4 linked regions of the Homo sapiens genome follow. The protein of the gene in region 3 purifies or fractionates together with the protein of the main gene of each other region. This does not show direct contact. Each region holds a gene or a part of one and is shown on either strand. Other genes may lie near its edges. The genes, in order: MCCC1, CYP24A1, CBR4 and ZNG1B.

Region 1 (3,570 bases), on a different chromosome or scaffold from region 3:
AATTCCAGGCATGGTGGCACGTGCCTGTGGGTCCAGCATCTTGGGAGGCTGAGGTGGGAGGATTGCTTGAGCCCAGGAGATCAAGGCTGCAGTGAGCTGTGATCACACCATCATACTTCAGTCTGGGTGACAGAGTAAGACCCCATCTCAAAAAAAAAAAAAAAAATTCAGCTGGGTATGGTGACACACACCTGTAGTCCCAGCTGCTTAGGAGGCTGAGGCAGAAGGATCACTTGAGCTCAGAAGTTTAAGGCTGTAGTGAAGTATAATTGCACCACTGCACTCTGGCATGGGCAACATTGTGAGACCCTGTCTCTAAAAAAAAAAAAGAAATAGTTTGTTTTACCTATAATATTTTAATTCTACCCTTCTGTTGTCATAGGCATAAGTTATTTATCTGTGACATAGAGAAATTCTATTGAGTTACAGAAAATACTTAATGTTTCTAATCAATATATTAGTATTTTGGGATTAAAAAATAGGGTGAGATGAGCTACCACATGAAATGAGGGAAACTAACTAATAGACATATTAAATTTGTATTATTTTGTCGTCTCAGACTCGATGTTTTCTTTAAAGAGTTCCATTGTAATTTATAGACTGGGCTATATTTATGTTTGTCTTGAATGAAATAATTTGTAGAATTTGGGGCATGTTGTTTTCTTTCCCACTCTAAAGCACATCCAAATCCATAATGGCTGCTGCTGGAGTACCTGTTGTGGAGGGTTATCATGGTGAGGACCAATCAGACCAGTGCCTGAAGGAACACGCCAGGAGAATTGGCTATCCTGTCATGATTAAAGCCGTCCGGGGTGGAGGAGGAAAAGTAAGATTGTGCATGCTTGTGTTTGCCAATTCAGGCTTGTCTTCTTTGTTTTATTTATGTTGTAGTCATAATCATCTTTTCTCTCTTAGGGAATGAGGATTGTTAGATCAGAACAAGAATTTCAAGAACAGTTAGAGTCAGCACGGAGAGAAGCTAAGAAGTCTTTCAATGATGATGCTATGCTGATCGAGAAGTTTGTAGACACACCGAGGTGGGTTGGCCTTATTTTTCTGACTCAGAGTTTAAAAATTAAATTATAAAAATAATGCATGCACATTCTATAAAATATAAAACTGTAGTAGTATATAAGTATATTATTACAAGTTTCCCAGTTCTGTCCTGTGATGTAACCACTGATTGTAGGATGGTATGCATTCTTCCAGCCATTTTCTATGTGAATAGAAACCTATATACATATACATACAGCAAACAAAATACATACCTAAGAACAGTGAATAGAATTTTTTTTTTTTTTTGGACGGAGTCTCTCATTCAGTTGCCCAGGCTGGAGTGCAGTGGCACGATCTCGGCTCATTGCAACCTCTGCCTCCCGAGTTCAAGCGATTGTCCTGCCTCAGCCTCCTAAGTAGCTGGAATTACAGGTATGCCCCACCATGCCTGGCTAATTTTTGTGTTTTTAGTAGAGATGGGGTTTTCCCATGTTGGTCAGGCAGGTCTCAAACTCCTGACCTCGTGATCCACCTGCCTCAGCCTCCCAAAGTGCTGGGATTACAGGCGTGAGCCACTGTGCCCGGCCAGTGAATAGAATCTTATACACTAATATTATATCACAGACATCTTTCCATGTCAGTAATTGTAGATCAGCCTCATTCTTTTTGTTGGTGACCTAGCGGTTCTATGATCTTGATATACCATTAATTCATTCAGTATGTTTCTTGTTGATGAAATTTAGGGTTTTTTTTCAATATTAGCAAATTATTGTAATAAATTCAGCTATATTTATAGAACTCTGTCAGTTGAGATGCTCAGGAAATGGAAGTAATTTTCTAAATTGAATTACAAGTGATATGCTGTTAATAGGAGCTAACACTTACATTGCACTTACCATGTGCCAGATTTTAAATATTTTACACATGCTAAATAATCTTGCTGTCCTTCTAATTCTAATATAATTCTTACAACAACCTCATTAGGTAAGTACTGTTTTCATTTTACAGGTGAGGACACTAAGCAACAGAATGGTTGTGTTGTGTTACTTTTCTGAGGTCACTCAGCTGTTAAGTAGTAAAGCTGAGATTTGAACCCAGGCACTTTGACTCCAGAGTTCATATCTAAGCCACTGCACTAAGCTACTTCTCTGGGTACCACTATAGCAAATGCAGTGTGAATCCCTATTTTTTTTTCTGGAATTTTATTTTCATGTTTGTTGTTTAAGATGCTGATTATAAAGTTTCTCATTTCATAGATTTTTATGACAATTGTTAAATTTTATATATATATGTGTGTGACCTGTAAGTCAAGTGAAAAGAATAATTTATTTGGGAACCATGACTGGAAAGAGATTTACCTTGAAGGTAACAGACTTGAAACTTCAGGCCCTTCTTTGACATTAATCTCTTCCAAGACCCTGACCTAATTTTGTATTTGCAGTTTTGTATTCTTCTCCTTAGAGAAGACCCCCAAATTGTTTTTTGTTTCAGGCCCTATAAAACAACTGTCCTGAGCATGGCATAGTAAATGAAATTCAATTAAGGCAAAAAAAAAGGGGGGGGCATTTCTAAGGTACATTGAAGGCTTCCTTTCAAGAAAGAATAGGCTAGCCATCCAAATCAGCATGCTCTTAAGTTAGAATTGTGGAGACATCAATAGCTTATTTCAGTAACTTATTTCAGAGACATCAATAGCTTATTTGAGTTATTATGTAACTCCATGCCTGCAGCATTTTTTGAATATGTAAGTTCTTTACTTATGAAATGTTAGCCATACATTGCGTCACATTATAATTTATTCCCCCAATAGCTGGAAAGCCCCTGGGAATCAAAGACCTGGTAGTATATACATTTTTATTTTTTGTATATATTGCCTGGCATACTACTTTCCTTGTAATAGGCATCAGTAATATTTTTTGAACTATAGAAGTAATATGAATACATTACAAATTTTTGGAAAATGCAGAAGATGGAAAACAACCCATAATTGTATTCTCCTAATTATTATTAATATTCTTATATACAGTCATGTGTTGCTTAATGACAGAGATACATTCTGAGAAATGCATTGTTAGGCAATTTCATTGTTGTGCACACATCATAGAGTGTCCTTACACAAACTGAGATAGTATAGTCAACTACACACCTAAGCTATGGTATAGCCTATTGCTCCTGAGCTACAAACCTGTACAAACGTTACTGTATTGAATACTGTAGGCATTTGTAACACAATGGTAAGTATTTGTGTATCTAAACATCTCAAAACATAGGAAAGGTAATGTATTGTGCTATTATGTCACTAAATGATAGGAATTTTTCAGCTCTATCATAATCTTATGAAATCACCATCCTATATGCAGTCTGGCATTGATGGAATGTCATTGTGTGGCACATTGTGTGACTCTATTTCTATTCTGTATTTCTAGTAATAACTTCTTTTTAATTGAAAGCAAGTTTATTAAGAAAGTAAAGGAATAAAGAATGGCTACTCCATAGACAGAGCAGCCCCAAGGGCTGCTGGTTGCCATTTTTATGGTTATTTCTTGATGATATGCTAAACAAGGGGTGGAGTAT
Region 2 (4,219 bases), on a different chromosome or scaffold from region 3:
CTCCTGCAAAACCCAGCTCAAATATCACTACTTAAGAACTTTACAATGTTATCTCATTTAATTCTCACAGCAAACCCGTGGGGTGGGAACTGTTACTCCCATTTTGTAGATGGGGAAACTGAGGCTTAGGGAAGGTAAGTGGTATATAGCCAGGTCTCATAGCCAGGGAGTGGAAAGCTGGGGTTCAAATCCAGGGCTGTAGAATACCAAAGTCCACACTCTCCATTGCTCCCTCATTGTGATATGACTTTAAAAGAGGGTGGAGGAGGGAGAAATAAGGGTTTGGTGGGGAGGAGGCTGTAGGAAGGAATGGAGAGAAAGAGAAGACCCCCACTTTGAATCACCCGAATTGCATTCTTTTTTCCTTTGTTCTTTGTAGCTGTGACTTGAAGCTCCACCAATATCCCTATGTCCCCACGAGCCCCAGGAAAGCTGGCCCCAGCCTGCAGACCTCATTGATTTTGTTGTCCAGCTTCATCACTTCCCCTGGTTTCATTAGTTTCTTTTGAAAGGCACTCCGGACCCGCTGCCAGTCTTCCCCTTCCCTGTGAGAGAAGCAGGAATACATTTAGAGCACACTGAAAAGAAAAGAAGGAGATGCAGAAATACTCCAGCTGCAACTTCAGGAACCATAAAATCAAACAAACACTGAGAATCATGCCAAGAAATAGCCAGAGAATATTAGCATCAGAATATTTGGGATAAAATAGTGATCATCTTTTGACAATAGTTTGACAATAGGATGAAAAAGCACCTTTCCTCCTAGTCAAAGATTGCACCAAAAAGTTGAAGTCCAGATAATTTGGGTTCAGGGATTTTGAGGTGTCCTTGCAGGGAGTGGGGCTGGGAGGCCTGGGGACAATTCCTAGCGGTAAAAGGGGGCATGTGAACACCCCATCACCAGCAACTCAGATCTGTTTGAGGGAAGAATCTTGTCTTCTTTCAACTCATTGGTGTGGGCTTCATATTTACAAAATATCTCAGATTTAGAATTTTGCCATCGCCTCCAAATAATAACATACAGTCAGAGAGTCACTGGAGTAATAAAAAGCCTTTTGCGATCGTGCACTTGTAGGCACCTGCCCCATAGCAGACCATACAGCCTGTGAAGCACCGTGAATTAATAGGGTTTTTAATTCCAGTCATTATATCCTGGAAAATATAACGATTAGGCATTACAGTTTGGGGGTAAATAAAGGTGCTAACTTGTTAAATGCTAACAACTAAAAAGCAGAAGAATCACATCCCATAGTAGCATTTGTCGACCTAAAACACAACTTTGATATCCCTCCTTATTCCACCTTTACAAGTAGAAATAAGGCATGTCCCCCAATCCTCTGCAGAAAATGTCACTGTAAAAAGCCAAAGAGGCTAACTCCTCGCTTTTGAGCTTACAAGGTGTTTCAGGGAGTTTTAAGGGATAATTTTGTTTGTATAAGATGTTTGCCTGGTACGCTGACTTCAGAACCTCATCCTGCCCAAGAGTCTGAACACCACAGTTGGTACAACCCTGTTTTGGCGTTTCTTTGATGGGAGGGTGTGGCCCTGCCCTGTTGCCAGAGAGAACGCAGGTGCTGGGTGCACAGCACGGCTTTTCCGTGGACCGACTCTAATCTGTACAAGAGCTCAGGGTTGCGATGGCACGGGAGAGGGGCTTTGGTATCCGCCCTACGTAAGAAGCTTCCAACCCCAGGGAACTCTAACTCCGCCTCTTCACAATTTCCAGGCGCCGTCAGGCTCATCAGGTCTGGCCGCATGCCCAGGTCCCTCGGATTGGACTCACAGGATCAGCAGCCCGTAGCCTTCTTTGCGGTAGTCGCGATAGGCCTTCCACGGTTTGATCTCCAGCCGCTGCGGGTACGCGCTCTCGGTGCGGTACAGCGCTTCCAGCAGGCATGGCGAGCCCAGGTGCACCGACTCAAAGGAACCCAACTTCATGCGGAAAATCTTGCCATACTTCTTGTGGTACTCCACCTGCAGCCGGCCGGGCACAGCGCGGTGTCAGCGCGCATCCTCCGCCGTGCCCGAAGCGCTTTCCCTCCTCCCGCCTCCTTCCTCCTAGGGGACCGGGGACCCTCCCTGCCCAGACGCCGAAGCGCACCATGCGCCCGAGGCGCGCATGTCGGGGAGGGTTTGGAGCGCCACTGGGAGGGCGGAAGAGGGAGGAGAGAGTCAGGGGCGCGAAAAGGGGTTTACCAGGGTGTCGTGCTGTTTCTTGAGACCCCCTTTCCAGAGAATCTGCAGCAGGCTGCCCAGCAGTGGCCAGCTGGTGGGGCCCGGCAGGGCGGCCGCGTTCTGAGTCTCGCCACCAGCTGTCAGCGGGCAGACTGGCACCTCTCGCGGCTGAGGGGACGTGTACGCCGTAGATGTCACCAGTCTCGGGGGCTGCCTCGGACTGCGCAGCTGCTGCAGGAAGGCGGCAAGCGAGCGGCTCTTGCTGATGGGGGAGCTCATGGCAGCGGGGGACACCGGAGCGCGGGAAGGCAGGAGGATGGGGTGGGGCGAGGTTGGTACGAGGTGCTAGTGGGAGTCGGGGCTTAACGATTCTGGGAAAAGGAAGCAAAGAGGGCCAGCTGGTGTGATGGAGCGGGGTGAGGCGGGACAGGCAGCAGAAAGGACCTCGGCGAGGATGCTCGACGCTGCACCACGCGACAGCCTCAGAGCATTGGTGCCTCCTTGCACTGGCCGCAGGGGCTGGAAGAGGGTGGCCGGTGTCTGGGGACCTCTTGAAAAGGGAAAGCTGGGAGTCCTCCTGTTGGTCCGCAAGGCTGACCTCTAGGGTCTGGCTGGAGCCACGGGGAGGTGTCAAGGAGGGTAGATGAGATGCTGCTGGCGCTGCGTTTCCTCCTGTCCCTCTCCATGTTCCTATGCCCAGGGACCATGCATTTATGGAGACAGAGCATGCCCTGGGTGGCCAATGAGCACGCAGAGGAGGGCGGAGTGGCCCCCGGCTGGCCAGACTCCGAGGGACGCGGGACCCAGGGGAGGGGGGGTGGAAGGAGGATGGAGTCAGCGAGGTGAGCGAGGGCGTCCGGGCCTGGGGTGACCGGGGCTATGTTCGCTGGGCGCGGGAGGTGGGGTGGGGGCGGCAGACTCCACCCCGGAGATAACCCCCAGGAAGTCATGCGAAGCCCGGAGTTCACCGGGTGTGCTTCGAACGCGCCTCCCCGCCCTCCCCCGGCGGGCAGGAGCCGGCAGCGGCGGCCGTGGTTGCCGCCCGGCGCTTGCACAATCGCGATGCCGGGCGGGCGAGGTCCCCGAGTGCGGGCCCAGAAAAGCTGCCGGCGTCTGCCAGGGCCCCGGGGAGCCCGGGCGCCTCCCGGGGAGCCAGATACCCCCAGCCTGGACTGAAGTGATTTTTTTTTTTTTTTTGCCTTTTTTTTTTTGGAGGAAGTTTGGCTTTCTGCGCCTCCCAGGGTGGGGAGGATTTGAGTCTTACTGAAATGCACCAGAAGAGGAGACTTTCTTAACTTGAGCAAGAAGGGGAGTTTGTAGAATTTCCTTCCTGCTGTTTCATGTTTGGTTGTTTTGCAGATTAAATGAATTAATGCACGTAAAGCGGCAACAACGAAGCCTTGTCTATAGTCAACAGTCAATAAAAGTTAGTTGCTGTTGTTACTTCTTTAGGAAGTTAGGAAATGCGCCTTGAGAGCGTGGCTTGCACCAACGATGCTTGAATTCAGGCTGGGCCACCTCCCCTATGTCCACTGCCCGCCTCTGTTCTTCTACACCGACTACCTTGTGCAAAGGAGGGGCACACAGAGCTTGAAACCACCGCCCCCAGTACTCCCCCTCTCCCCCAAGGTGCGTCCTAGGCAGGTCCAGTGACAAACATACACAATTTCTAGAGTTACCGCGGCTGGCAAGAGTAGAACTCGCTTTGCTAATTCAGGAACGGAAGTTGGAGATTTTTGTTGATTGTTTTAAAGTGGCTCGAATCCTTTCAACCTGATCCAATACAAAACTACCACCAGCCAGGGAGGAGGGGAGGGACATTCTGTTTCCTCGCCCTGCTTTTCAATTACGTGTCTCAGTCATTTTTGCCCCAAGTGTTGGCAAATCCTTCCCTGGTAAATTCTTTTGTAAGCCTCTAGTTTGTTTCTTAAAAATCTTTTGCAGTCCAACTTAAGCTTTAACACCATCATTTCTGATTTGTCTGGAGGGGCTAATGACTGTTTATGTTAATAAAAATAATAGCTATTGATATATACTAAACTTT
Region 3 (3,153 bases):
TAACTGAATAATCTGCAAATTACAAAATGAGTTGTAATCCCCCATCCACTACCAGAACATGCCCTGTAATATACGGTGATTCTAAAAGAAACACAACCGCATGTGCCACCTCAATAGTTTCTCCAAACCTCCCAAGAGGAATATTTTTCTTTAAATGTTCTTCTTTCAAGTCTTTCGTCATATCTGTGTGTACAAATCCTAAAAGAGAAATGTTTGTTTAGTTGAAAAGGGTACACACTAAGACATCTGCTGAATTTCAAAAAAAATAATAAATTTGTTTCTGAAAATTTTAATTTGAAATTATTTAAAAAAAAATTTTTTTTTGAGACAGGGTCTCACTCTGTCACCCAAGCTAGAATGCAGTGGTGCAAACACGACTCACTGCAGCCTGGACCTCTGGGGCACAGGTGATCCTCTTGCCTCAGCCTCCCAAGTAGCTGGGACTATAGGCATGCACCACCACACCTGGCTAGTTTTTGTACTTTTTGTAGAGTTGGGCCAGGCTGATCTCAAACTTCTGGACTCAAGGGATCGGCCCACCTCAGCCTCCCAAAGTGCTGGGATTACAGGCATGAGCCACCATACCCACCCTATAATTTGAAATTATTAATAAACCTTGTTTATATAAAATAGTTTTGTTGGCCAGGTGCAGTGGCTCATGACTGTAATCCCAGCACTTTGGGAGGCCGAGGTGGGCAGATCACCTGAGGGCAGGAGTTCGAGACCAGCCTGCCCAACATGGTGAAACCCCGTCTCTACTAAAAATACAAAAAATTAGCTGGGGGTGGTGGTGGACGCCTGTAATCCCAGCTACTCAGGAGGCTGAGGCAGGAGAATCGCTTGAACCTGGGAGGTGGAGGTTGGAGTGAGCCGAGATTGTGTCACTGCACTCCAGCCTCAGCGACAAGAGTGAAACTCCATCTCAAAAAAAGCAAAACAAAACAAAATAGTTTTGTTAGTAATCAAGACACCAAGCCTACATTTTTATACAATTTAACTCAATGAATATTTATTGGACACTAAAATATCTGACCCCCAAGTATCTGGCCCACCTAGCAAAATATAAGTAGGTAGACACAAACATGAATAAAACAAAATTCCACTCTTTGGGGAACCTATGATTTGTGGAGGAAATGGTCACTTGCACACCCGATTATAACGTAAAGAAGTCTGGTGAATATCCTGATAGAAGTATATATAAAATATCATAGAATACATTAATTTTCACTTAGGTAGGGATAGAAAAGTAGAAAGTAGTGTCAAGGGAAGGAAGGCATCACAAAAGTGGTCACATGAACTGATTTGGTAGCTGATGATTAGAAAGGCCAGTATTTCCCATATCTGGATTTTAAAATCTTACGGTCATATCCAATTCTGATACAAGTAAACATAGAAAATTCAAATTCAGTAAAGCCTGCCAAGAAAATGTTCTAAAGAATGTATTAGGTTCTACAGTATAAAGAACTAACTACATAATATATAACCAACCAATCCTAAATAACTACAAATACATACCAGGGAGAACTGTAGACTTATGAAGAAAATCTTACAAGATTAATACAGGACATACAAATACGTATTAATAAAATGCTTAGCCCATATAATCAGTATCCTGTATATTACTCAATCATTTGGGTTTTTAAAAAGAAAGCAATATTAATCCTCATGAAAAGAATAGAAAAAAATTTTTAAGGTCATGAAAAATAGATGGACTAAAACTTCAACATGACGTGTGAAGTAAACATTTAATGTGCAATCTCAAAAATACAGTTTTCAAATTGCCTGTTAAAACTAAATCATTTATAGCTCAAACTATAGATAAACCTAAATATATTACCTTTTAAAGTACCATAATAAATGTGAAGTAAACAATGAATTAAGAATTAACATTAGGCCATTGGTTTATTATGCAATACTATGTAATTACTTAACTTTCCTTTCTTTAGGTTTGCAGTTATAAATATCTACGCATTTTCTTAAAAGTCTTGTGAAAAATATTCACAGATTTGTCTATCATGAAGCTTATGAATGACACTTTCATTAGGAAAAAACTGAAACAAGCTGAATGTCTTTCAATAAGAAACTGGTTAAATAAGTTATGATACAGCCATACAACAGAATAATGCAGGTATTAAAAATAATGCTATATGTTCTCACTTGTAACTGGGAGCTAAAGAATGTGTACACATGGATGTGATCACAATGGAGATTCAGAAGGGTGAGAGGGTGGGACAGAGGTGAATAAGAAATTACCTAATAGGTACAATGGGTGTTATTCAGGTGACAGATACCCTAAAAGCCCTGACTTCCCACTATGAAATCTATGCATATAACCAAACTGCATCTGCACCTGCATTCATTTGTATTTATACAAATAAATGAATAAGATAAAAATAAAAAATAAAAATTATGCTATAGAAGGATACTTAAATCTGAAAGTAACATTTGTGTATAAAATGTAGGTTACAAATGAATTAAGTTATACCACTATTAAAAACACAACAAAGAACTTATACTAATGACTGAAAAAAGTACTATATACCAAAATATTAACAGTGATTATCATTAGATACTAGAATTACAGGTAATGATTTTTATTTTCTTTATATTTTTCTGCTCTTTCCAAACTGTCTACAACAGATATATATATTATTTTTGTATTCAGATAAAAAGTTGTTGAAAAAATGCACACAGTACTACCTTCAGATAGTCTGTAATGAAGGCCTGGAATAACAAAACTAATTTTGTATTATGTATGTTTCACTGTGAAATTACACAGTGAAATACAGTCTTCTCTGCCATAACATCTTACCACATTTATTTTAAAAGTCAGCAATATTTCCTTCATATCCTCTCATCTTTAAGAAGAATGAGAAGGCCAGAAGGAATGCAAGAATAAAAGGAGAAGCAGCTAACACAGATATTGATACTAGCCTCTGCAGAATTTCCAACAAACTATAAATGAAACTTAATTTACAGTGAAGAGCCACAATAATCAACAGGCAATCCAATCAGCTTAAGAACAATATCATGGGGGTTCTCGCTGTCCAAAGTTTTCTGTCTTTAGACACATGTATTTTCCTTTTTTTTTTTTTTTTGAGACAAGAGTCTCACTCTGTCACCAGGCTGGAATGCAGTGGTGCGATCTAGGCT
Region 4 (3,570 bases), on a different chromosome or scaffold from region 3:
ATGTAAGGTTTTTCTCTTTTTTGATAGTCATTTATTTTTTTTATAAGGTTGAACACTTAGAAATATGACCAATGACAGATTAAATTCAGAATAATCATTTTTTACATATGAGACTTTCATGCACTAGAGATTAAATAAGCCCTGACATCAAAAGCAATAAAAACTCAATAAAAGGACCAAAACATTAGAGCAGATAGAAAAGACAGCAAGAAACACTTTAAGAAAATGCTTCCTAATAAGTTTATTTTCTATTTGTTTGAAAATACAATGAAGCAAACTGTGTAAATTCAGTTAAATTACTCAAGAAAATTAAAGCTGGAAATATAATCAATAAACATTTCTAGTAAACCATGTACACAGTAAACACATTCCTCACTTCACTGAACAGCAGAGGCAACCGTTTCTAAGTTCCAGCCACTCTTCATAGAGCTCTCCACCTTGGCTGACAGCTAAGGATTTCTCCAGCGCACTTCCTAGAATAATTAACAAACAGCACTCTTTAGCTTATGTCCATTAGCCAACAAAAAACAAAGATGAGGATAACTCAATAATGGAGATCTTAAAGCAGAAACTGCATTTTATAACTTATATTCTTTCATTTTATTCATGCAGCCTCGATATCTAAATTACAGTACACTACATTATGTTAGCTTTTATTTAAGATGACTTAAGCCCTGAAAAAGACACATCCTAAACTGATAAACATACCTACTTCCTCCTTAGGCCTCTTACTTGGCCACCCCCATTTCTTAATAAAGTAGCTATCTTGAAGGCATTTTTTTCTTGTCCAGGGTAAACTTTCTAAATAGACTAGTATGTTTTATATACTGGATTTTGTATGCCCTTCAACCTCTTAAGAGACTGCCTTATCTATCTTTTTCTTTTCATTCTTCTTCTAAATTGTTTCTGTTAGACAAACTGCTGAATATTCCCAATGAGTAAAAACCCTAGTTCATCTTGAGGAAGGTTTTTGGCCAGTGTACCATGTGCTCATTTAAAAATTAAACTTACAGGGAGGCCAAGGCGGGCGGATCACGAGGTCAGGAGATCGAGACCATCCTCGCTAACACAATGAAACCTCATCTCTACTAAAATTACAAAAAATTAGCCAGGTGTGGTAGCGGGCGCCTGTAGTCCCAGCTACTCAGGCGGCTGAGGCAGGAGAATGGCGTGAACCCGGGAGGCGGAGGTTGCAGTGACCCGAGACTGTGCCACTGCACTCCAGCCTGGGCAACACAGCGAGACTCCATCTCAAAAAAAAAAAAAACCTAAACTTTTAGTCAAATTCACATATTTTCCTAGCAATACTTACTTAAGAAAGAATAAACTATATTTGAAATGCTTGTTATCTATAAGAATTATTTTAAATGTTTTACTTTTCCTCTAATAAAGAAATATACCAAACGGTGAAGTTCTAAAAGCCCACTAAGCAAATGAGCTCCCATAAAATCGAGTAGTTTTACACTTACGTATTTTTTATATTTCAGCTAGGTATTAATAAAGAGCTTCTAAAGAGGTTGCTACAGAATTCGGACTATATACAGAACATTAAGGAAACATGAAGAAAAGTATTGAGAATGCTGTGAAAAATAAAATTGCGAAAATGATCCAGGAAAAAATAAAGAAAATAGTAAGAATAAATGTAATCAGTGTGCAATAGGTTATTTAATAAGATGATAAAAAAACAGTCTGTTATTAGAAATCTCAGGATTTTTGCCTAAAAAGCACTTTTCTCTTTAGTTTATTAAAACCAGAAATCGAATATAACTGGCTTCCCATCCTGTTCATAAAACCTAGCTCTTTTACTTTTTACAACTGAAAAAAAATAGTACATTTTAAAAGAAATCATTTAATAGATATTGTTTTTTGGCTAGAAGTGAGCTTTGATTACAATTCATACTTATGAAGAAAAACTTCTATAAAGATAACAGAAGTATTGTGTCTAGAGCTATTTTTTTGACTACAGTTTAATATTTCAGTTGAGAAGTTAAGCACACTTATTTTCACAGATAACTTAAAATACATGAGGATAAAGACCATATGTTTACCTTTATTTTTAAAATATTGAGTTTTAACTGCATTGCAGATAATAAACATTAAACAAAGTTAACTAATAACAGAAGCATTTTCAAGTATTTTTCATGAGTTGCAATAGAGTCCATACAAAAGTGCCTTCCTAATTCCTAAAAAAAACATTTTTTGGCCAGGCATGGTGCCTCATGCCTGTAATCCCAGCAACTTTGGGAGGCCGAGGCAGGTGGATCACAAGGCCAGGAGCTCAAGACCATCCTGGCCAACATGGTGAAACCCTGTCTCTACTAAAAATACAAAAATTATCTGGGCATGGTGGCGCACGCCTGTAGTCCCAGCTACTCGGGAGGCTGAGGCAGGAGAATCACTTTAACCCAGGAGACAGAGGTGGCAGTGAGCTGAGATTGCACCACTGCACTCCAGCCTGGCGACAGAGAGAGACTCCATCTCAAAAAAAATAAAATAAAATAAAAAATAAACGTTTTTTCATATGTCTAGATTTTTACTTCTGGAGTCATTTATTTCATGTAAAAATGTAGTTTAATTCTGTTAATAAGAATTCCAAAGTTATACAAAATAAAATTTTATTAAAACTAATTTCAGTATCTCAACCCATATAAATCTTAACAGAAATTAATCCAACTTTTCTAAAGCTATCCACATCAATACAATACCTTGCATTTTCATTTTTAAATATGGAATAGCAATTCACCAGAGGAATAAACAGTCACACAAAATCTTGCAACATGACATTTATTGAACTTTACTTACCTTCCCCAAATTCATTTAAAATGACCGCTACTCTTTTACTATGTTGCTCTGTCAAAATATAGTTCAGAAGTGTTGTCTTCCCAGCACCTATAAAACATATTTTTTGTAAATAAAAAAATTCAAAATAATTTTAAAGATACAAAAAACATATAAAGAATCCTAACGTTTTTGAGAATTTGCGTGCTATTTTTCATATATTATTTTAGTATAGAATATCCTAGAGGATAAGATTAAAGCATCCTTTGAAACCTGTTGCAAAATACTTTATGTAGACATAAAATTTTATAAATATTTACAAACACTCCTACAAGTTGAAACAGTTTCTTCAACCTAGCCTAACCTTCCCTAAAATTTACACACAATCTTTTATTTATAATGACCTTTTATTTCAACATTAACAAGACGCAACTTCAGGCTGACTATATGGCTACTTATAGTATGCTTTAAACAATCTATAAAAGTTTTTATGAAATGGGGAATAGAGCCAGGTAGTGTCAACAATGGACAGAATGTTCAGTAAGATAAATTCATAAAGCTATACCAACTTTATCCAGCAGGTGGCATATAAAACCCAATATGTCAATCTCCAGTAGAAAAAAAATAGTCTTGTGAACCGTACACACTAAAATTCATAGAGGAAAAAAAGAAAATCCTAACTGCATAGTATTGTAGTTCAATTGTATGACTATATCATTTCTTTATCTTTTTTTTTTGTTGGACATTTGGTTTGTTTCCAGTGTTTTACTATTACAGTGCTGCTAAAAACTT

What was found.
Region 1: the proteins of CBR4 (region 3) and MCCC1 purify together in Homo sapiens (affinity purification with mass spectrometry; one large-scale study listed by BioGRID and IntAct). This does not show direct contact.
Region 2: the proteins of CBR4 (region 3) and CYP24A1 purify together in Homo sapiens (affinity purification with mass spectrometry; one large-scale study listed by BioGRID and IntAct). This does not show direct contact.
Region 4: the proteins of CBR4 (region 3) and ZNG1B purify together in Homo sapiens (affinity purification with mass spectrometry; one large-scale study listed by BioGRID and IntAct). This does not show direct contact.

Annotation. Positions count from the first base shown.
Region 1 is NC_000003.12:183,068,466-183,072,035, reverse strand, and holds part of MCCC1 (methylcrotonoyl-CoA carboxylase subunit alpha, mitochondrial isoform 1 precursor), read left to right. Parts: intron 1-678; coding exon 679-826; intron 827-915; coding exon 916-1,037; intron 1,038-3,570.
Region 2 is NC_000020.11:54,171,126-54,175,344, forward strand, and holds the start of CYP24A1 (1,25-dihydroxyvitamin D(3) 24-hydroxylase, mitochondrial isoform 1 precursor), read right to left. Parts: upstream 2,862-4,219; 5' UTR 2,455-2,861; coding exon 2,197-2,454; intron 1,975-2,196; coding exon 1,784-1,974; intron 546-1,783; coding exon 452-545; intron 1-451.
Region 3 is NC_000004.12:168,990,131-168,993,283, forward strand, and holds part of CBR4 (3-oxoacyl-[acyl-carrier-protein] reductase), read right to left. Parts: intron 199-3,153; coding exon 20-198; 3' UTR 1-19. UniProt on the Homo sapiens protein: Component of the heterotetramer complex KAR (3-ketoacyl-[acyl carrier protein] reductase or 3-ketoacyl-[ACP] reductase) that forms part of the mitochondrial fatty acid synthase (mtFAS).
Region 4 is NC_000002.12:113,440,670-113,444,239, reverse strand, and holds part of ZNG1B (zinc-regulated GTPase metalloprotein activator 1B), read right to left. Parts: intron 2,890-3,570; coding exon 2,803-2,889; intron 474-2,802; coding exon 377-473; intron 1-376. UniProt on the Homo sapiens protein: Zinc chaperone that directly transfers zinc cofactor to target metalloproteins, thereby activating them.